Homo sapiens: one gene and its partners. The protein of the gene in region 2 purifies or fractionates together with the protein of the main gene of each other region. This does not show direct contact. Each region holds a gene or a part of one and is shown on either strand. Other genes may lie near its edges.

Region 1 (7,026 bases), on a different chromosome or scaffold from region 2:
TGGATTCACTCCAAGAATGCAAGGATGGTTCAACATAGGTAAATCAATGTCATATACATTAATAGAATGAAGGGGAAAAAACCCAAATGATCATCTCAACTGATGCAGAAAATGGACTTGATAAATTCAATAACCTTTTCATGTAAAAAAACAATCAACTAGGAATAGGAGGGAATGTCTTCAGTTATTGATAAAGTCCATATAAGAAAAACCCACAGTTAACGTCATACTCAATGGTGAAACATTGAAAGCTTCTCCCTTAAGATTAGGAACAAGACAAGGACAGCCATTCTTTTCATTTCTATTCAACATAATACTGGAAGTTTTAGAGTGATTAGGAATGAAAAAGAAATGAAAGGCATCCAATGGTGTTTTTTATAGAAAAAAAAAAATCTTAAAATTCACATGGAATGTCCAGGGATCCCAAATATCCATAACAATATTAAAAAAAGAACAAAGTTAGAGGACTCACATTTCCTGACTTAAATCTTAATACAAAGCTACTATAATCAAAACAGTGTGATACTGGCAAAAAGACAGACATATTTACCAATGGAATAGTATAGAAAGGCCAGAAATAAACCCTCACATATATGGTCAACTGATTTTTGGTAAGGATACCAAGAATATTCCATGGGGAAAGGACAGTCTTTTCAACAAACGATGCCAGGAAAACTGGATATCCATATTCAAAACAATGAAGTTGGACCATATGCAAAAATTACACCACATACAAAAATTAACTCAAAATCAGCAGCTGGGCACAATGGCACACCCCTATAATCCCACCTACTCAGAAGCTGAAGTAGGAAGCTTACCTGAGCCCAGGAGTTTGAGGCTAGCCTGGGCAACATAACGAGACCCCCATCTCTAAGAAAAAAAAATTAACCTCAAATGAATCAAAGACCTAAATTTAAGAGCTAAAACTATAAAACTCTTGGAAATCAAAATTAAAAGCTTTTGTGCACCAAAGGACACTGCTGATGCAGGAGAATCGCTTGAACCTGGGAGGCGGAGGTTGCAGTGAGCTGAGATCGCGCCATTACACTCCAGCCTGGGCAACAAGAGTGAAACTCTGTCTCCAAAAAACAAAGCAAAACAAAAGATAGTAAAAAGGCAACCACAGGATGGGAGAAAATACTTACAAATCATAGATCTGATAAGGGATTAATATTCAGAATTTATTACATAAAGAACTCTCACAACTCACCAACAAAAACCAACTCAATTCAAAAATGGGCAGAGGATTTGAATAGACATTTCTCCAAAAAAGATATACAAATGGTCACCAAGCATATGAAAAGATGTTCAACATCATTAATCACTAGGTAAATGCAAATCAAAAACCACTATGAGATACTACTTCACACCCATTAAGATGGCTATTACTGAAAAAAAAGAAAAAGAAAACAAAGGAAAATAAGTGATGGAGGTAGTGTGGAGAAACTGGAACCCTGTGCACTGCTACTAGGAATGTAAAATGATGCAACTGCTATGGAAAACAGTTTGGCAGTTCCTCAAAAAACTAAACCTAGAATTACCATAAGGCACATTCTACTCCTAGGTACAGACCCAAAAGAATTGAAAACAGGACTCAAACAGATACTTGTACACCAATGTTCATCGCAGCATTATTCACAGTAACCAAAAGATGAAAACCTATTTGTCCATCCATTGATAAATAGGTAAACAAAATGTATATACAGACAATGGAACATGATTAAGCCATAAAAAGAAATAAAATTCTGATATATGCTACAACATGGATGAACCTTGAAAACACCATGCTAAGTGAAATAAGCCAGACACAAAAGGACAAATCTTGTATGATTTCACTCATGTGAAGTACCTAGAACAGGAAACTCATACAGACAGAAAGTAGAACAGAGTCTGGGAGAGGGAGAAATAGGAGTTATTTTTGTTTGGGATGATGAAAAAAGTTTTGGAAATAGTAGTGATGGTGATAGAACACTGAATGTTTCCACTGAATTGTACACTTAAAGACTGTTAGAATGATAACTTTTAGGTTATATATTTTTTCAATCATTAAAAAAATTGAGGGCCAGGCATGGTGGCTCACACCTGTAATCCCAGCACTTTGGGAGGCCAAGGTGGACGGATCACAATGTAAGGAGTTCAAGACCAGCCTGGCCAACATGGTGAAACCCCGTCTCCACTAAAAATACAAAAATTAGCTGGGCATGGTGGCAGGCGCCTGTAGTCCCAGCTACTCAGGAGGCTGAGGCAGGACAATCGCTTGATCCTGGGAGGCGGAGGTTGCAGTGAGCCAAGATCACGCCATTGCACTCCAGCCTGGGCAACAAGAGTGAAACTCTATCTCAAAAAACAAAACAAAACAAAACAAACAAAAAATTGAATTCACCAATAACATACACTCCTGTAACCCAGTGATTCTACTTTCTAGGTATTTCCCTGGAGAAATTCTTGTACACTCACAATAAGACCTACATTGCAGCACTGTGTATAAGGGCATTAGAGTTGAAACCCAACTGTTTATCAACAGAGGAATGGGTAAGTAAGCAATGAAACACAATACAGACATTAAAATCACTCAACCAGGCCAGGCACGGTGGCTCACACCTGTAATCCCAGCACTTTGGGAGGCCAAGGTGGGTGGATCACTTGAGGTCAGGAGTTCAAGACCAGCCTGGCCAACATGGTGAAACCCCTTCCCTACTAAAAATATAAAAATTAACTGGGCGTGGTGGTGGGCACCTATAGTCCCAGCTACTCAGGAGGCTGAGGCAGCAGAATCGCTTGAACCCAGGAGGCCGAGGTTGCAGTGAGCCTAGATTGCACTACTGTATTCCAGCCTGGGTGACAGAGCGAGACTCTGTCTCAAAAAAAAAAAAAAAAAAAAAAAAAAAAAAATCACTCAACCAGAGTTCCATGTCATGCCATTGAATGGCAAACACACTGATCAGTGAAAAAAACAAGTTGATACTCCTGATGTATAATTTTAAAACACAAAACACTATCTATTGTCTGTAATATATATATCAGTAATAAAAATACAAAACAAACATAGTGAGGGTTGTGGTTGTTTCTGGCGGGAGGGAGAGTGACTAAATATGAAGGTGGGCTTTAGCTATTAGCACAAGCATTTTATTCCTTTTTTTAAACCAGAGATCTGAAACAAATCAGGCAAAACATTAACATCTGTTTAACTTGGCAGTGAATTTATGGGTCTCTATGACATTTTTTTTTGTATAATTGTATGTTTTATAACTTAAAAAAATCTTTGATATCTCTAGAATCTTACTTTATAAGAATTGAGTTGGTCTACTACCCTAGACCTTCCTTTAGAGGCAAATTGCTCTCCCAGGGTTCTGCATCCCAGCCCTGTCCGCATTTTTTTCTCACTTTTTCTACTGTACCTTGATCTCCCTCTCCTCCTTTCCGCTAACATCCACCCAACAGCCTTCAACATGTTCTAGTCTGTTGCATCTTAAAACACACACCAATAAATAGGAATTTATTTAATTCCATATAGCTAACCAGTTGTTCCCTAGCCCCACAGAGACTGCACTTTAAACAACATGCACGCTGTTCCTATTGAGGAGGCATCAGGCCAGCAACACATCACAGTGCCTGCCCTGGAGTAGGGGCTTTACCTGATCACCTAGGCAAGTGGCATAAGAACTGAAAACTAGAAGCAACCAGACAGGAATGGCCTCAACTTTCTGCCACCAAAACCTCCAGACTCACTAGCAAATACACCATTCCAGTTACGACCCTAGACCTTCCTTTTGAGGCAAATTGCTCTCCCAGGGTTCTGCATCCCATCCCTGTCCACATTCTTTTCACATTCTCTCTACTGTACCTTGACTTCCCTCTCCTCCTCTCCACTAACATTCACCCAAGTCTTCAACATGTTCTAGTCTGTTCCATCTTAAAACACACACCAACCACAGAATGCCCCCTCTCTCAACCCCCCAGCACCTCTCACTAATGCTTACCTTTTATCTCCCTTTCATATCCAAACTTCTTCAAAGATTTCCAGTTTCTTTTTCTTTTTTTCTTTTCTTTTTTTTCTTTTTTGAGACAGTCTCACTCTGTCACCCAGGCTGGAGTGCAATGGTGCGATATCAGCTCACTGCGACCTCCGCCTCCCGGGTTCAAGCAATTCTCCTGCCTCAGCCTCCCGAGTAGCTGGGATTACAGGCGCCCACCACCACACCCGGCTAATTTTGTATTTTTAGTAGACATGGGGTTTCACCATATTGGCCAGGCTGTTCTTGAACTCCTGACCTCAAGTGATTTGCCTGCCTTGGCCTCCCAAAGTGCTGGGATTATAGGCATGAGCCACCGCGCCCAGCAGAGTTCCACTTTTTCACCACTTTTCTCAACACCTCATCTTCACAACTCTGCTCAAATTGCCCCAGCAAAGATCACCAATGATCTCTATCATTAAGTCCAACCAAAGGACTGGTCAGGGGTGCCTGGAAGTAGAGAATTTATACTTTCCATCTGGCTCTCTTCTCTACTGTCTGAATTTTTTATTTCCATGTACATGTTTTGCCTTTATTAAAATAATAATGACTATGATTGCCTATAAGCAGTTTTTAATCCTCCTCTTCCTTGAAGGTTCAGGCACAGCCAACACCATGGACCAATTTCCCCTTCAAATGTGTCCTTCCTCGTTTCCATGTCACCATAGCCTCCTCTCTGGCCCTTTCTTCTGGCAAAACCCTCTTCTTCCCATGCTCTTAGTGATGGCTTCCTTGAAGTTCCATCCCACTTTTCTCATTAGATACTGTTTTCTTTGGGGGATTTCATCCATACCTTGGCTTCAGTTATGGCTGATACAAGGACAACTCCCCACCTCTGGGTTCAATTCAGATCTCTCTGCTGAACTCCAGACCCAGAGATCCACAGCCCCCTTGGAAATCTCTACTTGAATGCCTAGCAGCCACTAAAATCATATTCAAAGCCAAACTCACCATTTTCCTTCACCATACCTACTCCTCTTCTCATTATACCTATCTCAGGAACACGAATCACCCTCTATCTAACTGCACAAGCCAAAAGCCTGGAAATCATTCTTGACTCCTTCTTACTCTGTTGATTTTACCCCCTAAATCTGTCTCTAAATATTCACATTTCTTCATCCCCAGGCCACTTTTATTTCACACCTGGATTACCACAGCTGCCTAAGTGAGCTCTCAATCTTTGCTATACTCCAGCTAGAGTGGGCCTTCAATTCCAAACCTGAATATGTCATCATTCTGCTTCAAATACCTCATTGCCTCCCCTAACCATTGTCTCTTGGATTGTCTAAATTCCTCATCATAGCTACAGAGCCCTTCATGACCTGTCCCCTACCAACCACCCAGACTCATCTCCTACACTCCTCTTCCCATGATTATCCCCTCAGTCCCTGTGAGTATCTGTCAGTTCCTGGGATAGGCCATTGCCTCTTGTCTCCAGGCCTTTTGCACTTAGCGCACCTTCCATTTGGAATGCCCTCTCATTCCCCCCACCATCCTCTCCATCTGCTAGTCTAACTCCTCATCCTCCAATGTCAGTTCAAAGGTCACTTTTCCCAAGAGGCCTCCTTTTCACCCTGGACTCTGTCCCGACTGTGTGCTCCCCTGCGGGCTGCACTTCACTGCTCATGGCATTTATCCTGCTTGTTGTGGCTGTTCATTTAACATATCTCCTGAGAGCAGGACTAGGTCTCATCCACCTTTTTGTTCCTAGTTTCTATTAGTGCTTGGCACAGGGCATATGTTCACCAGATATGAGGAAGCTATGCAGTCTTGACCTCAGTTCTTGGCCTACTGAAGATACAAACACCCAAACGAATAACTAGAATACAATGAAGTGCTATAACGGATTATATACGTGTGTGGATGCTTGTATTATTAAGTGGTGAAGGAACACAACTAACTAATTTTCTGGGTTAATCAAGAAAGGTGATATTAGAACTGGCTTGTCAGTCATTTCATTCATTCAATGAATAATTTCTAGGTACCTATTTGAGTGAAGCACTGTTCCAGGAGCTGTGGATACATAAGAAAACAAGATAGACATCATCCCTGCCTTCCCAGAGCTTATCTTAGTGAGGGAAGACAGAATTAAACAAATACAATAATTTCAAGTAATGATACATGCTTTGAAGAATGCAAAACACTGTGGATGCTTACCAGGACAGGAGCAATAGGGTGTGTGTGTGTGTGTGTGTGTGTGTGTGTGTGTGTGTGTGTATGTGTGTGTGTGTGTTTGCTTATGTTAGGTTCCGTGTGTGTGTGTGTGTGTGTGTGTGTGTTTGCTTATGTTAGGTTCCCTGGGAGTTGTCACTTGAATATAACCTGAATGAGGGGATGGGGCCAATCATTTAAAGATCTGCAGGAGACTGCACCAGGCAGAGGGAACAATGAGACCCACTGGTTCGAAGGACAGAAAAAGGCCAGTGTGGCAGAAATACAATGAGTACTTATATCTCTATCCCAGACCTTGTCCCTGAATTCCAGAACCACAGAGCCAACTGTCAACTGGACATCACCACTAGGATGTCTAAAGGCACCTCAACCTTCAATATCCAAAACCAACCTAATTTCCTCCCCTAAACCTGTTCCTTCACACTTCAGTAAATTACAATTCCATCATTCCAGTTGCTCAAGCCAAAAATCTTGAAGTAATCCATGATTCTATCCCACATCCAAACCATCAACAAATCTCATTGGCTCTACCTTCAAAATATATCCAGAATCCAACTACTTCCCATCACCTCCACTGCCACCACCCTGGTCTGTGCTGAAACATTTGGCTCTTAGCCTTTGTGCAAGGCAGAAACATTGAAGGTTTTTCAGGACTGAACAGAGAAGTGATGCAGACTTACAGGTGTGTTGGAGCCAACTGGTAAGTTTTGGAGAATGTTGCAAGACAGTTGACATCATTTGACTTGCGCATCATGGGAGTATTTATACCACAGGCATTGGCAAACATTACAGATCAGGGCTTCCCTCCCACACCCATAGAGATCTGGGGGTCCAACACTTA
Region 2 (7,026 bases):
CAGGCGTGAGCCACTGTGCCCGATCAGGAAGGAGATTCCAACACAGGCTACCATGTGGATGAACCCGGAGAACATTATGCGAAGAGAAATAAGCCAGCCACAGAAGGACAAATACTGTACAATTCCACTTACATGAGGCCCCTAAAGCAGTCAAGCTCATAGAGAAGAAGAGTGGTTGCTGAGAACGGGTGGGAGAATGGGGTGACAGCAGGGTGGGAGAGCGGGGTGGGAGAACGGGGTGGGGGTGGGAGCGGGGTGGGAGAATGGGGAGATAACGTTGAATGGGGACAGTTGTAGTTTTGCAAGATGAAGAGTTCATTTAGCAGATAGGTTGCGTACTAGTGGGAATATAGTTGACACTACTGGATACTTAAAAATGGTTAAGATGATAAATTTTATGGGAATTTCACCATAATTTTTTTTAAAAACAACACCTAAAATCTCTCATTAGGCTTTGGCTGTCCTTAGGCCAGAGAAATGGGCTACGTGGGAAGCTGCCCAGCCTTGGAGGGCACACTTCTAGCCGGCGGACCCCGACGCCTCCACACATTTTCAGGGCACAGGCTCATTCTTGTTTTAAAGTCATGCAGGGACCATTCTTCCTGTTTGATGGTGGGAGCTGAGCCTCAGAATGGTGAAGCGATGGCCCAGGGTGGCGGCTGAGCCTTCTGGCTGGGTCTAGAAGAGTCCCTCTCTCCACTTCGCCTGCTCCCTGGCTTCTGTCTGACTGTCCTCTCCTCGGCCCTTGCCGAGAATGAGGTGTGAAGGTGTAGACACTTCTTCAGCTGAGTGAGGCTTTTCCCCACTCAACTATAGTCTATTTTTGTTCTTCAGGGTAGTTTATTTTTTATTTTTTTTGAGACCGAGTCTCACTCTGTCGCCCAGGCTGGAGCACAATGGCGTGATCTCAGCTATCTGCAACCTCTGCTCCCGGGTTCAAGCGACTCTGCTGCCACACCACACGCCCAACTAATTTTTTGTATTTTTAGTAGAGATGGGGTTTCACCATGTTGGCCAGGCTGGTCTTGAACTCCTGACCTCAAGTGATCTGTCCACCTCGGCCTCTCAAAGTGCTGGGATTACAGGTGTGAGCCACCGCGCCCAGCCCAGGGTAGTTCTATAAACTCACCACAAACACTGACTAATTGAACGCTGAAACATGGCTCCTAGGGGAAGCACAGAGCTGGGTTCCTGTGAACCTCTGGTCCTAGCATTTTCACCAGCCAATCAATACAGAACCTTGTATGTGTGTTTCTTCCTTTTTTTTGAGATGGATCTCGCTCTGTTGCCCAGGCTGGAGTGCAGTGGCACAATCTCGGGTCACTGCAGCCTCTGCCTCCTGGGTTCAAGCGATTCTCATGCCTCAGCCTCCCAAGTAGCTGGGATTACAAGCGTGAGCCACCACATCTGGCTAATTGTTGTATTTTTAGACGGGGTTTTACCATGTTGGCCAGGCTGGTCTGGAGCTCCTGACCTCAGGTGATCTGCCTGCCTCGGACTCCCAAAGTACTGGGATTACAGGCGTGAGCCATTGCGCCTGGCCTTATCTGTTTATTACTACTGCTCCCCACTAGAATGGGTGGCTCGTGAGGAGATGTGGCTGTGTCCCCAGCCCCTAGATCACCACCTGGCAAAGTGACAGTCTCTGTGGAACTGTCGGAGTGAATGAATGGGGCCCCCCAGGCATGGTCTCTCTCCTCCTGTCCCACTCAGCCAGGTTGTGACACTTACTCTTCTTGAAGAGTTTTTTCCGGCGTCCGGCCAGGCTGAGCTTGTAGTCCCCGCTGTCACAGGTGCAGGCCTCGCTGCCCTGCCCGTAGTACTTGGGCACGAGGTTGGAGAGGGCTCTGCTGCCGCCCAGCCGCATGGGGCCCTTGCACTTATGCAGCTTCAGCTTCCCCGTGGCGTCCTCCACACACTGCCACTTCTGAAAGACATGCCAGGGCCTCGGCCAGCTGCTCATCTGCTCCCCTAAACCCGCCTCTCCCCTGCCACCCCCATCCACCCTGGAGACATCCCTCTCCCTGCTTGCATCCAGCTGTTACCGAGCCCCACCTCTGCTATCTCCAATGCCGCTTCTCTCCACTGCCACTGCTTGAACCTTGGGCAGAGCTACCATCATCCCCCAGCGAGATGCCTCCGACAGCCACCACTCTCACGGTTACCTGCTTCTGTCTGCTCCTAAAATCCACCCACATGGCAGCTAGAGGAATCTTTTTAAAGGGCAAGTTGGATCATATTACTCTCCTACTTAAAACCCTTCAATGGCTCCCACTGTCTTTAAGACAAGACCCAAGCTCCTGATACTAGTCTTTGAACATCCTCTGCAATCTGGCCCTGGCCTACCCATCGGTCCTCCTCTCCCTCAGCCCTCTCTCCAGTATCCCCTGTGGGCTGCTGCCCCAGGGACTTGGCGCTCACTGTTCCTTCTGCCTAGAATGCCTTTTCTCCAGCCCTTCCTGCTGCTGGAGGCTTCTCTTCCTTCCCGTCTGCTCCAGCGCAAGGAGGTCTCCCCTGACCACCTTCCCAGACTCAATCAGTGCAGTGTGTGCAGAGGCTCCACGTGTGCACTCAACTCCAGGCCTGTGGTCAGACGCTGAATGTAGATAGAATCACTGTCCAAATCTCTCGTGTTGATCCTTCTGCTCTTCCCCAGTTCCAGCCTCCTGGATCCCCTCACGGGATTCTGCAACCACCTGTAAACTGGATTCTCTTCCCTTCTGTCCACAGCTGCTCCAGCCCATTGACCCAGTGACTCTTTAGGGCCTATTCTGTGCCAAAGTGACCTTTCCAGGCCATGGGTCAGATCTGTTCCCTGTGTCTCTCCAGCACTTAGCATGTGCCAAGCACTGTGTGTTAATATATTAACTTGCTTACTACACCTCACGCTACCCTACGAGGCAGGTGCTGTCATTACTGTGCCGATTCAAGATGAGGCACACGGAGGTAGAGAGATGTGTCCTGGGTCACACAACTGGGAGGTGCAAGAGCTGTAAGGAAAAGTGTGGAGTCTGGTGCCACCATCCCCCCCAACCCTCTGCTGCACCGTCTGCCCCCGCCCGCTGCCGTTGAAGGCCCTGGTGCCTTTCACCTGCTCATCTTGCCCCTGTCCCGCCCATCTGTTCTCACCTGGAGGCTGAATCTAATTGCATTCACAGCGCCCTGCCACCCTCCCATCCCCTTCAATGCATGCAGGCCCTTCCAGCAACCTGGATTCCTTAGTGCAGAAGTAGACTGATGGGCCAGCAGGCATGGCCCTGAATGAGGCCAGCCCAGAAGCGCCTGGGGGACCTGGGGAGGCTAAAGTGGGCACTGTGACCGGCTATACCCATCTGACTGTCGCCAGAGGGGAGCACAGGCCCAGAAGCCCAGGTCTGATTTTTCAAGAAAAGCCAGGGCTCTGAGTTCTGCGTGAAGCCCTGAGCTGTGTGCGCTGGCGAGCAGCCTCCTGTCCACTTAGCTCTCTCTGCCTGGAATTCTCCTTCCCCACTGCCTGCTCCCCGCTCCAACCCAACAAACTCAGCTGGGGCACGACTTGAGGGGTCGGCAAACAGCAGCCCTCTTGCTAGTCAACTCCAGCCCACAGCCTGTTTTTGTATGGCCTGCAAACCAAGGACGGTTTTTACATTGTACGTTTTCAGAGTTGTAAAAAGCAAGAACAAAAACAAATATGTGGCCTGCAAAGCCCAAACTATTTACTGTCTGATCTTGTGCGGAAAGGGTTTGCTGCCCCTGCAACTACTCATGTAGAAGCCGTGTCCACATGGCCCGTCCCGAGGCTGTCCTGGCGGGGGCGGCGCCTGAGCCCCACAGGGCTGGGCCAGTGTCGGCTTGACTTGGGGTCCCTACAGCTGCTGAGAACGAAGGTCCCGCAGCCCAACTACCTGGGTTCAAATCCTGCCTCCACCACTTGAAGCTGTGAGGCTGTGGGCAGTTTGCCTGAGCCCTGGGCCTCAGTTTCCCCGTGTACAGAACATACCTGCCAGATAGGGTGGCTGGAGGTAGAGCTTACACTCACGTGTTGCCCGTGATGATCATCATTACGAGGTGCCCAGGGCACATTTACTCCTGCCCGGCCTGGGCCCTGGTCTGGGCTTTGGCAATGATGACATGAATTCTAGCCGGGCCCTGCCCTTAGGATGTCCCCGTGTCACCGGGAGACAGACAGATGCACATGAGCTCGGTTCCTGGGCACGTTTGTTCAGCAAATGACAAAAAAACATCTACCACGTGGGGTAGCACGGACAAGGTACCCAAGACAATGCTATGGCTGGGTGTGAGGCCCCTAAGAGACGTCCTCGGGCCACAGGGTACAGCTTCTACACTGGGCAGGGCATTCCAGAAGGCACGGCACAAGCAGGGACATGGCAACGGCACTCGGGGAGTACCGGCTTGTGAGCAGGGCCGTTGCCTGGGATGGGGGGCAGACGTCTGAGCCTGAGGTCCCCAAAGCTCCGGGGCTGGGTCGGGGGCCGTGGGTTGCTGCCTCCCAGCTGGCCTAGGCTAAGTGCCCCAAACTCCGCCCTCAGCACTCTCTTCCTTTGGCTTCAGTGGTGTGCTCTGATTGTTTGGAAAATGCTGATACCTCCTCTTTCTTGGCCCCAGCAAAGAGGTCATTCTGGCTGCCCAAGCCCTGATCTGGGTCAGGGGAGACATCAGAAAGAACCAGTGGGGGACTTGACAACGTTCCCTCGTCGAGGGGCAAAGACTTCCTGGCCTCCTCATTTCACTCCTTTTAGCCCAGAACTAAAATCAGAACCACTTCTGGGATCTCGGTACAAAGTCAAGGCTGAACTCTCTCCAGAACATCAGCTCTGGGAGGGCAGGAGCTTCTGTTGAGCATGTTCGAGGCTGTGGCCCTGCGCCTAGGACAGTGCCTGGCAAGCGGGGGGACGCATTCATGCTGTACAACGGAGGGATGAAATCCACAGCTCCTGCCCGGTGGCAGATACGGGTTAATTGTGTGACTAAGAGGGGTCTGTGGGTTTACAAACACACACTGGGTGGGGAGGCACAGTCAGGCCTGTATGGGCCTGTACTAATTCTGTGTGCAGTGTTAAGATGGAGTCATTCAAATGCAGTCCATCAGAAACGCATCCACTTCAGGCCTTGGCCTTCAATACCAGGGCCCTGGTTTTGCTTTTTCTCATAGGTGAAACAGGCACACAGCTCCAGCCCCAGCTCAAAGTCCCAGCCTTTGACAGGCAGGGCAGGGACACACCTCCGGCACCCCTTGGGCCAGCCAAGGCAGAGTTTCCATCCCACTCCCCTCCCTGCCCTGCCCCGCCCCCGACCCTCCTCTCCAAGCCTGCCCTGGCTTTCCAGCCTCAGAAAAGCCTCCTTCAGGCTTTCCCAAACATGTCAGTTTCTGGCTATCTCTGATACTTCCCAGATAATTTTCTTTTTTCTTATGTTTTTAGAGACAGGGTCTTATTCTGTCACCCAAGCTGGAGTGCAGTGGCGCAATCATAGCTCACTGCAGCCTCCAACACGTGGGCTCAAGCCATCCTCCCGCCTCAGCTCTGGAGTAGCTGGGACCTCAGGCATGAGCCACGGACTGTTCCTGGCCATAATTTCCTTAATATTTCTCTTGCAATCAATTCACTTTTTAAAACCTTACCTATATTTATTTTAAAAAGCCATGTCTTATTACTCCTATAAAAGGAAAACCAGTCACAAAGAGGATACTGTCAAAGTGAATATGGTGAAAATAAAATAATTTAACTCCTGCTGGGGCCTTCGTGCAAGAGAGATCGGCAAGGGCTAGAGAGGCGCTAAGGGCATACACACACCCACGGGACACTTGGCCTCTGACACGGTCAGGGTCCAAAGGCTGCTGAGAAATGAATCACTTATTGTGAGCATCATCCTGCACCACCAAACAGCATCTTGGGCACCACACGGCAGCAAAGGACTACCCGTTGGGAGGCCCTGGCCCTGCTGGCTCAGCGGCTCTCAGAGCCTCGCAGGTCAGGGCCGGCTGCAGTCAGGAGGGGGAGCCGTTGGGAGGGAAGGGAGCCTTCTTACCTGTCCCAGCTGCTCACACGCCGTCTGGTACTCAGCACGCTGACACAGGTCCTTCACACGCTGGTACTTGGGCAGAAAGTTCTCCTCCTGGGCGTCCACCTTGTCATTGTCTCTCTTGTGTAGCAGCTTGCTATGGGGCAGAGAGCAGGAGCCGCGGGGCCGGCCTCTCAGCTCTGGAGGAGCCCCGGAGGCATGTGTGCCCACCTAGAGGGGTGCCCCCTCGGCTCCGGCTTTTCCTCACAGTGGAGGGCGCAGGGCCACCTGCCCGGGTCTTCTGATGTTTAGGAAACTTAAGACATTGGAATTTTATAAGAAACTTCCCAAATTGCATGAGTTGGCAATAAATTAAATAAATTGAAGACATTGTAGAGGCTGGACAAAGCATGCCAAAAGCGTACACGTGACCTCAGACCCCAATTCTGTGTCTATAGGAGCAGTGAATGGGCTTTGTGTTTAGGGGCCTTTGGACCAACTTCAGAGCCATGGGCAGCTCCTGAATAGCATGATGCGGTGGGGCTACAGAAGCTTCCTGGGCAGAGGGAGGGAGGTGGGCAGGGGTGTCCCTCCCAGGACCCGGCACTCACCCTCTCTCCACCAAGAAGGAGTCCCGCCAGACCCTCATCTTCTTTTTCAAGTGAAACCTGGAAAAAAGCACGGCTCCTGCTTCTCAGCAACATGAGGGCTTCCCACGACCCCCCGTTCCCCCAGGAGCAGGGACGGCACCAGGAGTCAGCCTTGGTTTACGGTCAGCCTGGACAGCAATTGTGGTGAGTGTGCCCAGCTGGGCACTAGAGCATTGCCCACCCTCCTCTGAGTTGAGCCACCCCTTCCCCAGAGACTTGGGTCTGGAGACACACACAGTAGAAATGACCCAGGTCAAAATCACTGTAAGTCCCACCCAAGTAACTGTGTGTGTGTGTGTGTGTGTGTGTGTGTGCGCGCACACACATCTCAAGCCCCTCCCAGGAAGCCCAGCAACTCCCCCGGCACTAGACGAGC
Region 3 (7,427 bases), on a different chromosome or scaffold from region 2:
GACTTTGAGTGGCAGAATCAGGTTTGCTAATTGCAGGATATTTACTTGGAAAACCTCAGCATGGTTCCTGCAAGATCTCTTCCAAGGTCTTTTAGCCATAAGAAGGGAGAAAAGATGATTGCCCAATCTATAGCCTGAGTTGGGGTGTCAAAGTCCAGATGGCTGTTTAGGCAGGAGTAGCCTGTAGGGTGAAAGTCCAGGACACTCCCTATCCAGTCCCAGTTCCCCACCTGCTGGCCCTGGACGTTTAGGTAGTTCTGAAACCTCTTTGGCCCCGTGAATACCAGCTGTATCTCCTTCCCAGTGCTAGGGCCACCAGCTGCCAATGCTCAACTAAAACACGGAGGATTAGTGTGAAAAGAGACGCTGGGTACACTTGGCCTGAACCTCAGACTAGTCTAAGTCACTGAAAAAATCTTCCTGGGCTTGCATTAGCAACAGTCTTAGGCAAGGCTCCTGATATGAAAAAATACCTCATTCATTCATTCAATTAATTCATGAGGACCCAAATAACCACTGGTAGATGAATGGGACTGGAGGAGAGCTGAGGAAACCTGCTTTCAAACGCACAACACTCTTCAAAAACAAAAATCTGATCAAGAACCTACCTCCATTAGTAAACCAATAAAGGCCTCACATTCAACTGTTAGGCTTATTAGGAATCTCTTTTAGCTCAGGCACACTCACCTTTGTAAACTCATTTACTCCCTACCACCAAGAGAGGGTGGATAAACAGCTTTTTTTTTTTTCCAGCTAGGAAATAGGTGCAGAGAAATTAAATGACTTGCACAAGGTCACACAGCGAGTAAACCCAAGTCTGTTGGACTCCAGAGCCACTTCTTTCTCTGCTACGTGGAGCGGGGACAGTTTCCCCTGTGAACTCAGGTCCTCAGTTTTGGGGAGGGCCGAATAGGCCACTGAAGTCATACCCGCTTCCCTGCGGTCCACAGGGAGGATCGGCCGCCTCCCGGCTGCACCGAGTGGCAGTCGCCGCCCGTCGGCGCGGCTCGCTCTAGCCGCGGTGCCAAGCCGCGCGCTCCCTCCCGGGCTGGGCGGGGTGTTCTCCGCCCAGAATCTTTCTTCGTGGAGTACCCAGGATCCCGCGGAGCTGCGCGCCGGGGTCAGACTGTTCCTCGCAAAGTGCTCAGCACGCCAAGGTGCCAAGGGCACCAAGGAGCCGGCTTTGGGTAGCTCCGGGTGGAGAAAGTCGGGGACACAAACCCGGGAAAGGGGGAAAAGCGCTCCAAGAAGGGTGGCCCCTGGCTTTGGTCTCCGGCGTGACCCTGGCGCCCGCTGACGCTGCCCCAGACTTTCTCCTGTGTTGCTCCCACCGCTTCCGTCCAAGGCTCTCTGGGGAACTGGGAAGGCGAGGAGGAAAGTACAGCAGCTGGGAGCCCATTTGCCCCACCAGGTGCCCCAGTGACCCGCTCATCCCTGCTTAGCACCAGAGCTGACTTATGAAGGGGCGAGGGTGAGAGGACACGCTCCCTGGCGGGAGCTAAGGTGAGGCCAGACAGGCTCGCTTCCCTTCCTGGTTACCTGTCCCCCACCCGGAGAGCGGCTGCTGCTGCACGGGGAAACGATGTCTGGGGAGATGACCCTGCTGAGGAGCGAGGTGGCGGGCGTGGGGACAGAGTCAGGCGTCTTCAGATCGGTGCTGGTCGAACTGCCTGTCCCGCCTAGGAGGCTCTCACCTGCTTGGACACCTCCTCCCTGAGCTCCCGAAACCCCACTCTCAGCCGAGCGGCGTAGGCGCGACATCCCTGGGACGTGGAGACTCCGAGCTGCCGGAGCCAAGGTTCCCCGGCCTCCAGGGAGCAGGCCTCGGGCATCGGGGCTTCTCTTTCCATCTTCATCCAATTCCCCTTGCAGCTCGGAGCTTACCCCAAGCTCTTTGAGGACCCTGTCCCCACTGGGAACCTGTTCTGGAAACCCAAGATACTCTATCTCGTCTGGGACCACGAGAGAATAATTTGGGGTTCTTTCCAAGGACCCTTTCGAGGAGCTTTAGGCTGTCCCTGCCCCTCCTTCCCGCACCCCGGGACCGGTTAGGGAGAAGCCAAAGTCCCTTCTCCTGAAGGGACCTATCCAGGGAAGCCGGAGTGGCTGTCCCGCCCAGGGCCAGTCTTTGAGAATCGGGTACCCTCTCCTTCAGGGACTGAGCGGGGAAAGCTGGAGTGGCTGCCTTGCCCGGGACCCGACCAAGAGAAGCCTGGGTCCCCTCCAGACCGATTTGGAGAAAGGCAGTTTTACTTCCCTCCTGCAGACGGCCGGGGGAGAAGCGAGCCTCCCTTGCAGTCAGGCCGGCGTGACGTGTGGCTCAGTTACATCCTCCGCCTGGGAACCGCGCGTCGGAAACGCGGGGTGCCTCTCCTGGCTGCGGCCCCCGCGACGGCCCGGGACGCTGGATTATGATCCGCGCCGAGCTCGCGACTGCAAGGGCCGAGGGCAGCCAGGACAGAAGGGCCCTTGCCGGGCTGCACCCGCGCCACGCGCCCGGAGACCGCGCGCCCTCCTCCGGCACCGCGAGGTCGGCGCCCTCCGGGGACCGGGTCCCGCTCTCCTAATGCCACGCCGGGCGGCCACTTACCGCGGTAGCTGGTTCCCGGCTTGTAGAAGTCGGGGTCGCCCTCCACGCGGAGGCTGAACTCGGTGTAGCCCTCGCGCCGCGTGCCCTGGGCGCGCAGGATACGGCTGCAGTAGCCCTCTGACTTGGGCACTTTGTCCAGGGTCTCGTCGGAGAAGGCCAGCGCCGCGGCCAGGGGCAGCGCCAGGGCCAGCAGTGCCGGAGTCCGGCTCAGCTTCAGGGGCGCCGGGGACAGCCTCATCTTCGCGGCCCCCAACTTTGTGCCGCGGCCGCAGGCCTTCGCCACGCGACTCCTGCCCGAAGTGGTCCCGACGAAGGCGCGACCTGGCGGAGGCGCGGCGGAGAGAGGGAGCTCGGAGCTGGCGTCCGCGACTCGGAGACCGTGCCCGCCTCGGCTTGGCGGCCGCGGAGCTGCGCTGAGCTGAGCTGAGCTGAGCCAAGCGAACGAGAGCAGCGCGAGGAGGGGAGGGCCGCGGCGAAGGAGCGGGAGGAGGGAGGGCTGATTTTGCCCAGATCCCCCAGCGCAGCGCTGTTTTGTTTCCTCCGAACTGGCGATTAGCGGCGCGGCCGTGTTTATTTTGCGACGTTGGATTCCCAGGGTCTGACGAAGAAACCGTGGCATACCGGACCCTGTGGGCTCTGTCCCATCGCCTAGGAGGCTGCTGCTCCAACCCCCAGCTACACTCCGGACCCTCTGGAGGACGGCGCTCAGAGGAGGGAAAGCCTGAGAAATAACTTTTGTTGCACACCTGCTCTGTGCCTAGCAATATGCTTGGCGGCTTACTTACTGTATCGACTCGCCTTCATGTTCCCTACTCCCAATAAAGATTACATTACTTTCGCTCACTTTATAGATGAGCAAACTGTGACTTGCGACCAGTTACAGCAGGGTTAGATGCGGCGACTCCGGGCCCATTGCTCTTCCCAAGGCCATAGTGGAACATGTCAGACTGGAGGCTGAGAAAGGAGAAACGACTTAGCTACAGCGCTTAGGGCCCACGATACTTTTGGAGATCTATGAAAATGTTTTCTGTAAAAATCAGAAGAAAAAATTTATGTCAAACAAAATGTTTTACTATATAATGTTAATATATTTGTATTTATACCTCCACAGTCATAAAATATGCTTGACTTGGAGGAAAGAGCCAGCAAAGGCAAAAGTGCCTAAGGCTCAGGAAGGTCCTCCTACAGCCCAGGAAAGGAGTTTCCAAAGATTCAATGAAGAGCCTGTGTTTTCTTGGCTTACATTTTAGTTCAGATTCTCACTCCCCAGGGACAGATGTTCAGAGAGGTGCTGAGCCTGAGGGCCTGAAGGGAAAAGACCTGGGGCAAGAATCTCTCCCAGTGTCTCTCTGGGAAGAGACCCGAATCAAACCTCAGTCCTGCCACTCACCCATTGTGAAGCTTGGGCTAGTTATCGCACTCTCCAAGCTTGTTTCCTGCTCTGGAGAACAAGGAAGTGGGGGTGGGTGCCAGTACATCCTTCTTAGAGGTAGTGGGGTGATATGCTAGAAGTAAATGATATGACCCATATAAAACACTCTAGTTGGTCTCTAGTGGCGCCTGCTCCCTCACCCGCTTGGGGATACCATAAGCCCCCTGCCTCTCAGTGCACACAAACATCCCTCCCCAGGTGCCCTCAGAAGCTTTGGTTTCCTCGTCTTCTCTTTGCCCAGGGCCTTCGACACACCTCAAGTGCCTACAATTAGCAAGCAATCTCCTTTGCTTTCCAGGTCAGGGTTTTCTCTTTCATAATGCTACAAACAGGCCCAGGGCGCTAGGTGCATGGGAGATCTCCATTCCTCCCTGCCTGCCCACTTACTCCTTAGTGCTTGTGCTGGAATTCCCACTGCCACTATTAACTGGACGCCTTCTCTCAGAGGTCACCTGAAAGTAACCCCTTGCTGAAGCCAATTATGCTCTTCTCTCATCCCTAGCCCTTCTTGACCCTAGCAGCACCTGATCCAGCTGATCGGCCCTCCTTTTTGAGGTGAGGCTCAGATCCATGTCTGAGTGCTGAGGGAATTGTCTGCATCTTCACTCGACTGGCTCAGAGCTCATGCTGCACTCCAAGTTGCACGGTCCCATTCATCCAGCAAACTTTCATTAAGTGTAGATTTGGAGCTAGACTCTGTGCTGACCGGTAGGTAGAAGACGGAACAAAAATTCATCCATCCATCCATCCATGCATCCTTCTATCCATCCATTCATTCATGACAAAGACCCTCCACGTGCTCAGTGCTTGGATACAAAACACAGATATGTTACTTGCCTTTGAGGATTTTACAGGCCTGTGGCAAAGGCAAATATTAAATACATAATTATATGAATCTTTTAAAATTATAATTGTGATGTATGCTACAAACTAAAATAAGTGGTTCTTGAAAGTGTACCTGATCTTATCTCAGAGGGCAGGAAACTACAGAAATGAATAAATTGTGACCCCTGTCTTCACAAAGCTTATTTTATGTCTGAAAGCTCAAATCTGTGCTCTTGAACCTCTATTCATCTACAAAAGGTTCAAATCTAAGTTGGAGATGGGTGGGCATGAAGTAGGCAGGAATGCAATATTTAACTTTTTATTGGATATTGACAGGAAAACTATGGGAAGTAGGCAGTCCCAATTCACCTCCGCACTCCCATTGTTCAGATTAGGAGCCTATGAAATTACCTGCTGAGGTAATGTTCCATGGCTATTAAGGGAAAGAGCCAGGATTTAAAACAGGCATCCCCAACACCAAATGAGGTACTTTCCAGTACACAGTGTTCGCCCTATCATCTGGGCTATGACGGCAGGCTCTAACCAGCTCACCAAGCTCCAATCCCACTACATGAGCTAGGTTTTCCTAAACCAGCTTGGCTGTCACTCAGACCTCTGCTGTCTTCTCCACTCATCCGATCCATCACCACATCAAGTTTCACGCTCTTCTCCACCACTACCCCTGTCTGTGTTGACATCCTCTCTCATCTTCCTAACTGGGTTGCCCTTGTCTACTTGTGCTCTCCTTCCATCTGTCTTCTGCACTGAAGCCCAAGTGATCTTTTTAAAAATGCAGATTTGAATGTCAATCCTGAGGTTAACATTTTTTCTTGGTGGTTTTTCAGGGCTCTCAGAATAAAGACAGAATCTTCAGCCAGGCCTCCAAGGCTCTGCTTGATCTGCTTCTCCAGCCATGCAGCTCTTCTCTCATGGGCTTTGCCTGTGCTGTTCTCTCTGCCTGGAATCCTATCATGCTCTTTGGTCTCTCCTAGCCACCACTCTCCATTGGCCAACTCCTATGTACTCTTCAGATCTCAGTGCAAAACTGCCTCCCCAAAGAAGGCCTTTCTGATTTCCTAGAATAGATCCAGCCCCCAAAACTCTGCTGAAGCTCATGAGTACCTTTTCTTTTAATCTCCTCCTCCTCCTCCTCCTTCTTCTTCCTTCTTCCTCCTCCCTCTCCTCCTCCTCCTTCTTCTTTCTCCTTTCTCCTTTCCTCTTTCTTCTTTCTTCTTGAGGCAGGGTCTTCCTATGTTGCTCAGGTTGGTCTCAAACTCTTGGGCTCAAGCAATCTTCCTGCCTCAGCCTCCCAAAGTGTTGGGACTACAGGCATGAGCCACCACACCTGGCTTCTTTTAATATTAAGATTTATAATGACCCATTGATTTATAAGTTTGATGTTTAAAATTTTACATTTGTTCAGTATTTGTCTCCATTCTAAATTCTAAGCTCCAGAAGGGTAGGGGATGTCTATGGGGCTTACCACTGTATTTTCCGTGCACATCGTAGTGCCCGGCCCCTGGTAGGGGTTCCATAAATATTTTTTCTCTGAATAAAAACTTTTTAACAAGCCTACCCTCAGTGCCTTCTGACTCTGCCCAAATTTTAAGACTTGGCCTCTAAGGCCATCCACAATCTGGTCTCACTGTGTCCATCTGGTCATGCCTGGTCATAGATCCCAATCTGAGCTCCCAGCACCACCCAGCTGGGCTCCCCGTGTCCTCCACTTCAGTATTGCCTCAGCACCTTTGCTTACAGCTTTCTCATGGCCTGGAATGCCCTCCCTCCTCCTGCCTGATTAAATTTTCCTCCATAGAATGAGATCCTGCAGTCTCCCCTCCTGTGGACTTCAGTAGAACTGAGGAGGAGAAAAAGTTTCCCATTTTGACTACTGTGGTCCAGTGGATTGTCATGAACTATTTCATGTGTCTATTTCTCATCTCCTAGCAATGAATCCAGTTTACTTTCCCCTTAATTTCCTGTTCAGATGTTTTGTTCTTTTGTAAAATATACTGGACTTCAAGAAATCTCCTTCCAGTTTTTGTAGCCTAAGGCAGAGCTGATGTCAGTTGCTAGGGTGTTGCTAAGGAAAGTCATTTAGCCAGGGCAGATAATTAACTTTATCAGTGTGTGTGGGTAGGTCGCAGAAGAGAAGAGCTGGGGGCTCCAGTTCTCCAAGGCGAGAAAAGTCCTTTGATTCATAGGAGGTAAGATCTCCCTCTTTTTTCTCCCCGCTTTAAGAGAGAAGGGGGAAAAGGATTTTCTAGATTAGTGTTTTTCTGAGTATGGTCATTGAAACATGAGCATCAGATGTTTGCTTCAAAGGCAGATTCCGAAACCTCATCCCAGACCTACTAAATCTGTACTTTGAAGAAAAACTCATACTGAAGTTTAAGGAACCGTCGTCCTAGACCGTAATTCAGACTTGAAGTACATGGGTTCCAGGCTGGCTCTTCTGTTTTCACCATGTGAAGCTGTGCAGTCTTGGAAAGTCACAGGACCTATCTACACGGATTATGTGCAAAATTGGACATAGTAATACCCATCTTGCCTACCTTGTGGGATTTTGAGAAACAAATG
Region 4 (6,693 bases), on a different chromosome or scaffold from region 2:
AAGTGAAGTAAAGTGGTTTGATAAATTACAATGGAAAGAAACACATGAAAGTCTCTCTCTAGGGCTTATGATGATTTTATAGGAGGTACAGTGAGCAGAAAAACTCTCCCTCTGTGAGCTGGGCACGCGGCCCTGATCCTAGCATTGCTGCTGCTTAACCATGTGGTCACGGACGACTGACTTCATTCTCCTGGCTTTAGTTCACAGTTCTGTTCAATGAGGAGGTGGCAAGACCTTCCTGTCCCAACCCTTATTTCCTCTTTGTCTCTAAAGTGGACTCCCATTAAGGAAGAGAGCTGATGGAAACCTCCTTAGGAACTGGGAATTTGAGTTGCAATATTTCATTGATTTTTGTTGTTGTTGTTTCAAATTAAGAGTCCATTCACTTTCAGCTTTCCACAAGAGAAATTAATATGGCCATGCTTGCCTATCCAAACTCCATAAGGAAGCAGCTGCTTTCCCATTTCTCCTAGCCATATGCCTTCAGAATTAAACACAGACAAAACTGGGATTTTAGTTAGTCTTTAATATAACTCCAACTTTTTAATGGTAAACAAAGATGTAAGTACAAAACATCAAAATACGTTATCAGTAGTTCTAAACAGCCATAGTAGTCACAGTGCCAGAAGTGAGGTCACTCACATTTTAAGGAAATATAATTCACTCTATTTCAGTGGAATCCATGTTCTGGCAGTTGGAAGGCAAAGGTGAGGCTTACTTTGTGCAAAATGTATTCACTTTATTCGAAAGCAGCTTTCTTTTCTGTCCCTTGCTTGGCATTTTAAAGAACCTGTTCATTTTCCTTTTTTGTTAAAAGTGCTCTAAGAACTAAAAGGGCCGTTCCTTACTGGAATAAAATTAACTACACATGCCATACATTTCTGGGTCAATGTTGCTGGTTAAATTCCCTCAGAATTAGCAATTCATAGAAAATTAATTGTTAAGTTATCGCACTTTCATGCCAAAAGTACAATTTAGAGTTCACAATACAAGGCTCTGTGGTATAAAGTGCCTATGAGCAGCTTCCCATCATACACTGAGGCTACAGAACTTCCTTGGAGAACAGACCCATTGTTGGCATAAACTGTAGTCACTGTAGGCTTCTCAGATAGAATGTTCTGGATGCGGAGAACCTATTCAGGGGATACAAAGTATGAATATAAGACCACCGTACATGCATGTCACTCAATCATCAATAAGCCCTGTTTTCCACAATGACACACTGATTAAGGGGACATGCTGTTGAAAATAGCAGTTACCAATCTTTTTAATGTTTAAATTAAAGTACTTTCTCCAATCTTCAAAGAAAGTACTTTCTTAAAACCATCTAGTTATTCCATGCCAACACAGGATTTAGTGTTATTATAGCAATTCAGCTTTAATAGAAATACTTTCATACTAATGTGCCTACTTTCACACTACTTCAACATGAACAAATATCACATCATGTGGTGAGCTGACAATAAATCAGATATTTTAAAAATTGCCAGTATACCACCCAAGAAGGGCACATGTCTTTATAAAAATGCCTTTTGACTAGTTTCCACCATAATTTAATACATCAAAAGATTACCTTTCTTAAAGTATTTGAACAATGTAACATTCTGCCAATTATTGGCTTAACGCAATTACAAAACCACGACATAAGCTTATTATATTATTGCTTTAAAATAACTAAACAAATCATCCCTGTGACAATTTATTGTATTATTAGTTCAAAAGGACTTGAATAATTAAGTTTAAAAAACTGAAAATATAAAAACCTCTGACGAGGGAGGATTGTTCGGGTCATACACGAAGAGCTTCTGGCCATTAGGATGACAGCCTACCCAGATGTCCCCCGAGGAAGGATCAATAGATAAATTATCCACCAGTGTATCCAGCTCAAGTACCTTCCAAATGAGAAATTGTCAAAATCTAAATGACATGAGAAACTTGATTAAATAATTTAGAGGTAACCTTCCTGCCTCTATGCATGTGAGGAAATTACACATCGCCCTGCTTCCACCTTCTAACACCAATATTGCTTAAAAGGAATGTATTAAAAACTGGTTTGGAGCCACTTTTCTTCTTCCCTGAAATTAAGAAAGTTAGGGTGATAATCGGTCTCTGTAAAAATCTATCTTAAAAACTGAACTCCTTTTCCTTTAAAAGATGCACAATGATCAGTTAGCTCAAGGAACTCAATCAAAGCAAGATAGGAAATTCTTAATCAACCTAAAATATGTGTTGTTGAGTAGGAAGAAAATAATAATGGTGTGGAACCCAATTTCTACCTTCATGTATTATTGAAAGAACTGACACTGTGCATAAACCTTCATTTGAGAATTCATCTATTAGTATTTTCAATTGTGAAAATTCTTATTGGAATTCTTCCACTGCCATCAATACTTCATGGAATGGGCCCTAAATCTGATGAATATCACTCTCAACCTGCTGCTGCATGTAATCATGGTCAGTTCTTGAGATCGCTGGAAACAGGAGCTTTCTCTAGTTGTAGGGAGTATTTAAAAACCCAGAATAGCTACACTGGCATCCATATTTTGTTCTACGTGTGGTACTCTTATAGAAAAACTATGTCATTGCAAAGCATAATAGATTACTGTCTATATGTAAAAATAAATATTTTACCTTCAACTGAGTTAAATTCATATTAGTGTGTTTTTCCAAAACATGAATTTCATGAGCCAATATGTCAGCAACATAGATATACCTTTGCAGAAAGGACACAGTGGTTAGAGCTCCATGCCAATATAAAGCTTCATTAATACAGTGTGAAAGAATAAGTCTTAATAACCTGCCAAGAAGTTAATCAATCATGGGCCCTCAAGGAATGCTTGATAAAGGTCAATTTTTATTTAAAAAGTAAGCTTTCAGAATCAATTCAGTGGTGCTACAACAATCATGGAATTATTAAATTGTTTTTCAAAAAGCTTGTAAGGAAAAATAATATAGAACATCATTTTGAATATGAAGTCCATATTTGCCACTGAAATGACAATAAAACAAATGCTTGGCTTCAGAAGAAAAGCTTTTACATTCCACAATATAATTTGATACTTCTAATTATCATGTACATATAGAAATATATGGTAAAGAACATCTTATTAAAATAGTGATCATTCCTTAATATTCAATAAAATATTTATTAATACATAGCGAATTTTAAGAGTAAGAGATAAGTATCAATGCAGAATAATCTGTCTACTTCAAAGGTGAGTGAATTAACAGACTATTTTGAGGTAATTTTACTCATTGAATTGACTTTCCATGGCACCTGCTCTGTTGAGCAATTATGTGTGAAAAGCCATGAACTCAGTGTTGCAGCAGATATAAACATGAAGAAGACACAGCCTCTCTCCTTGAAAGTTTATAGTGTGTTGGAACAAATCTCACTGGTTTGTACACATTAAACACCTAATAAGCATGAGAAATAGTTCAGGTCTAGAAATAGCTAACTTCCGAGGACACAGAAAGGCTCACCAAGGAAGGGGCATCTGCAGTGGCTGTGTAAAGAGAGATGAGATTTGAGATGAGGACGGAGGAGGCACTTCCCAGGCAGAAGCAAGCACAAGAGCAGAATCACAGGAGCAAGAAGAGGAAGGAATGTTTAAAACAATGAGTTCTTTGTCTAAAGCATAGAAAGCATGGAAATAGTAGAAAAGGGAGGTTGGAGGTGGCCTGTTAAACAAAGTCCAACCCTTTACCCTGCCTTGATTTGATAAGCAATTGGATTCCACTGAAATCTTAGAATAATAAAGTGGCAACAAATGGTCAGTTCTGTTCCACAATTCCTGAGCATTTGCTTTGTGCCTGGCACTGTACTGGCATAAGGAGTCAAAGGTGAGGAAGACAGAGTTCCCTCTTTGGGGAGCCCTTCAAGGCTAATAGAGATAGACAGACAAAATTGGCAAGAGTGAAAAAAATCCAAGTAGACAGAAAACAAATTGGAAGAAAGTCTCATATGCTAGTCAGAGAGGATGACAACCTAAATTAGGCAGGTCTCACTCAAAGGGAAAGGAGTTTGGGGGTAGAGGAAGGAGGCACAGGTAGAACCAACAGGACCTGCCTACAGGCTGGATAGGAATGGTGAAAGAGGAGTAAAAGCTGATTCTCCCTTTTCATTATTGTTATTTTTTTGTTAGCTTGGGTGATTGGAAAGTTTGACTCTCATAATGGAAATATAAGAGTGAAAAACAGATTTGGCTGCAGAGGTTGGATCAGGTCAGTTAGAGACAATTTAAATTAAATGATTCTACATTCTTTTTCTATAGTCAACAAGAAAGGAGGAGAAATTGGATTACAAAAATAAGGGCATTTAGTTGTCAAGGAGTGCCAAATTTATTTTATGTTGTATTTGTAGTAGTTTAAATTTTTCAGTGTGCTGAGGCAGTAGATAAGAAAGCTATCAAGAATTTAATATCTTCTCTTATAGGTTGTGGTTGTGCATATAAAAATAATGAGATAATTCTGGAGGACAATTTGGCAATATCTATTAAAGTTAACATTTAAAAGAATCACACTGTTTGAGCAAATAGTTCTATTTCTAGGGGTCTGTTCTACAGAAAAGTAGCTCATAGAACCATTTAGCCAGTGCCCTGGGTGGGATTTGAACCCAGGCCTGTATGAGTCCAAAATCTGCAAGTTTAACCATTATGTTATAATACTCTCTTAGAGCCAGGTGTGGTGGCATATGCCTGTAATCCCAGCACTTCGGGAGGCTGAGGTGGGCGGATCACCTGAGGTTGGAGGTTCAAGACTAGCCTGACCAACATGGAGAAACCTCATCTCTACTAAAAATACAAAATTAGCCAAGCATGGTGGCGCATGCCTATAATCCCAGCTACTTGGGAGGCTGAGGCAGGAGAATCACTTGAACCCAGGAGGCGGAGGTTGAGGTGAGCTGAGATCATGCCATTGCACTCCAGCCTGGGCGACGGAGTGAGACTCCATCTCCAAAAAACAAAACAAAAAAAAAACACTCTCCTAGGGACTTTTTCTTTAAAAAAAATACTTGTTTAAAATTCCATGGTAAATAAGAAGTATAAAATATTTTTTATGTAGAACTCCCCACCCCTATACACATATCCATCAATAGAGAATTGGTTAAATTAGTTTAAGATCATCCTTATAATGGAATAATGTATAGCCAATAAAAATAATACATTTATTTAAAAGGAAATACCTGATACTTCAATATGTATGCATCAGTATGATCACACTTTAAAATTTATATTTATAAAATTAAATTTGACAATGATGTATTCCAAACTTTATATATTATATATAAATACATATATATTACTGTATTATATAGTTTACTTAAATATGGTATTGTATTTGCATATAAATACATGTGACTAAGTATATGTAAATATATATACAAAACATATATAATTATATATATAGTGTATCTATATATTATATGTATAATATACCATAAATGTCAAGAAAACTATTTTCACATTGACAAAGAAAGCAAAGTAAAGAATTTGGCCAGCACCACAACTGAAGAAAAATGAAGATATTCTATAAGGGGCCATACTTATCATCAGGTGAAATATTGATCCCATTTGCTGAATCAAATCCTTCTGCTACCACTTTAACTTCATTTGGACTGTAGTAAACAACATTTGCCCAGTGTAAGTTCAAGTATGTTTCTAAATACTTTAAGAAAGGATCAGAGAAGTAGTGGTCATTTGTGGCATAGAAATGTGCCGGTCCAACAGCTGTGATGTCATTCACACTGAAAAAGAAAAATAGCATGTGAGAGGAAACAAAAGGCCTGTTGGTCTCCATATTAAATATTAAGTACTCATAAGATTTATGCAACATGTGCTTTAAATTTTTGGTAAGAGGAAAAGACGAGCTAAAAATCACGACTATAGTCATATACAATATACTATAATATTGTTGCCAGAGAACAATTTTGTATGGTACCAGGTAATCTGAACACAGGTCATTTAGCAATTATGGCAGGATTACCATAAGAGAAGAAAGAACTTAGTGCCATCAGGGCATGTTTTTTGACAGCAAGAAATGTAGGGTTTAACAATTATACGTAAGGACAGAGCTGTCCACAGTACAGAGCTGGAGAGAGCCTGATTGGCTGGTGAGCTGGTTAGGCAGTCAGTAACATTTACCTAGCTTCCATTTACTCAGTTCCTGGATTTTTCTAATTTCCCTGGCTTAGTTATTAGTCAAACTAAGGTTGACTGTTCAATTTCTACCTGCTTCACAAAGCTGACATGCCGAGAATGAACAGGCACTCAATAAACACTTGCAGAGAGATGGATGATAAAATTGCCATAGTACAATGCTTCAGGTGAGAGATTTATATGCTAAAAACAATTTCATTTTAAGACCAGTTAGGTGAGGGTGTTATTAAATTTAAATTCCAATTACTCTATGCAAAAATTTCTGAAAGAGCTGCTTTATTCTTTGCTAAATGAAAAATATAGAGCTACAGGGAAGGTAGGTCTCATTTTTCTGAAAGAGCACCATAATGCTTGGATGGTATTTATGCTCCTATTTTTTTTTATCAAGTGCATTTTTGGAAGGAATGATTGGAAGTTACATGCTTATGCCCTAGATAGGCATAGATAGGCCCTAGATAGGCAATATTTTTAATTTCATTAGAAATGAAATTTCATTAGAAATTAAAAATATTCATCAAGTTTAAACTAAAAGAAG

What was found.
Region 1: the proteins of SULF2 (region 2) and OS9 purify together in Homo sapiens (affinity purification with mass spectrometry; 2 studies listed by BioGRID and IntAct, with this or other methods). This does not show direct contact.
Region 3: the proteins of SULF2 (region 2) and SPON1 purify together in Homo sapiens (co-immunoprecipitation; 2 studies listed by BioGRID and IntAct, with this or other methods). This does not show direct contact.
Region 4: the proteins of SULF2 (region 2) and PON2 purify together in Homo sapiens (affinity purification with mass spectrometry; 3 studies listed by BioGRID and IntAct, with this or other methods). This does not show direct contact.

Annotation. Positions count from the first base shown.
Region 1 is NC_000012.12:57,697,129-57,704,154, reverse strand, and holds part of OS9 (protein OS-9 isoform 1 precursor), read right to left. Parts: intron 1-7,026. UniProt on the Homo sapiens protein: Lectin component of the HRD1 complex, which functions in endoplasmic reticulum (ER) quality control and ER-associated degradation (ERAD).
Region 2 is NC_000020.11:47,670,467-47,677,492, forward strand, and holds part of SULF2 (extracellular sulfatase Sulf-2 isoform a precursor), read right to left. Parts: intron 6,669-7,026; coding exon 6,612-6,668; intron 6,158-6,611; coding exon 6,028-6,157; intron 1,928-6,027; coding exon 1,732-1,927; intron 1-1,731. UniProt on the Homo sapiens protein: Exhibits arylsulfatase activity and highly specific endoglucosamine-6-sulfatase activity. It can remove sulfate from the C-6 position of glucosamine within specific subregions of intact heparin.
Region 3 is NC_000011.10:13,958,306-13,965,732, reverse strand, and holds the start of SPON1 (spondin-1 precursor), read right to left. Parts: upstream 3,011-7,427; 5' UTR 2,829-3,010; coding exon 2,591-2,828; intron 2,577-2,590; exon of another isoform or gene 688-2,576; intron 1-687. UniProt on the Homo sapiens protein: Cell adhesion protein that promotes the attachment of spinal cord and sensory neuron cells and the outgrowth of neurites in vitro. May contribute to the growth and guidance of axons in both the spinal cord and the PNS.
Region 4 is NC_000007.14:95,404,356-95,411,048, forward strand, and holds the end of PON2 (serum paraoxonase/arylesterase 2), read right to left. Parts: intron 5,747-6,693; coding exon 5,546-5,746; intron 2,714-5,545; coding exon 2,632-2,713; intron 1,893-2,631; coding exon 1,764-1,892; intron 1,134-1,763; coding exon 975-1,133; 3' UTR 507-974; downstream 1-506. UniProt on the Homo sapiens protein: Capable of hydrolyzing lactones and a number of aromatic carboxylic acid esters. Has antioxidant activity. Is not associated with high density lipoprotein.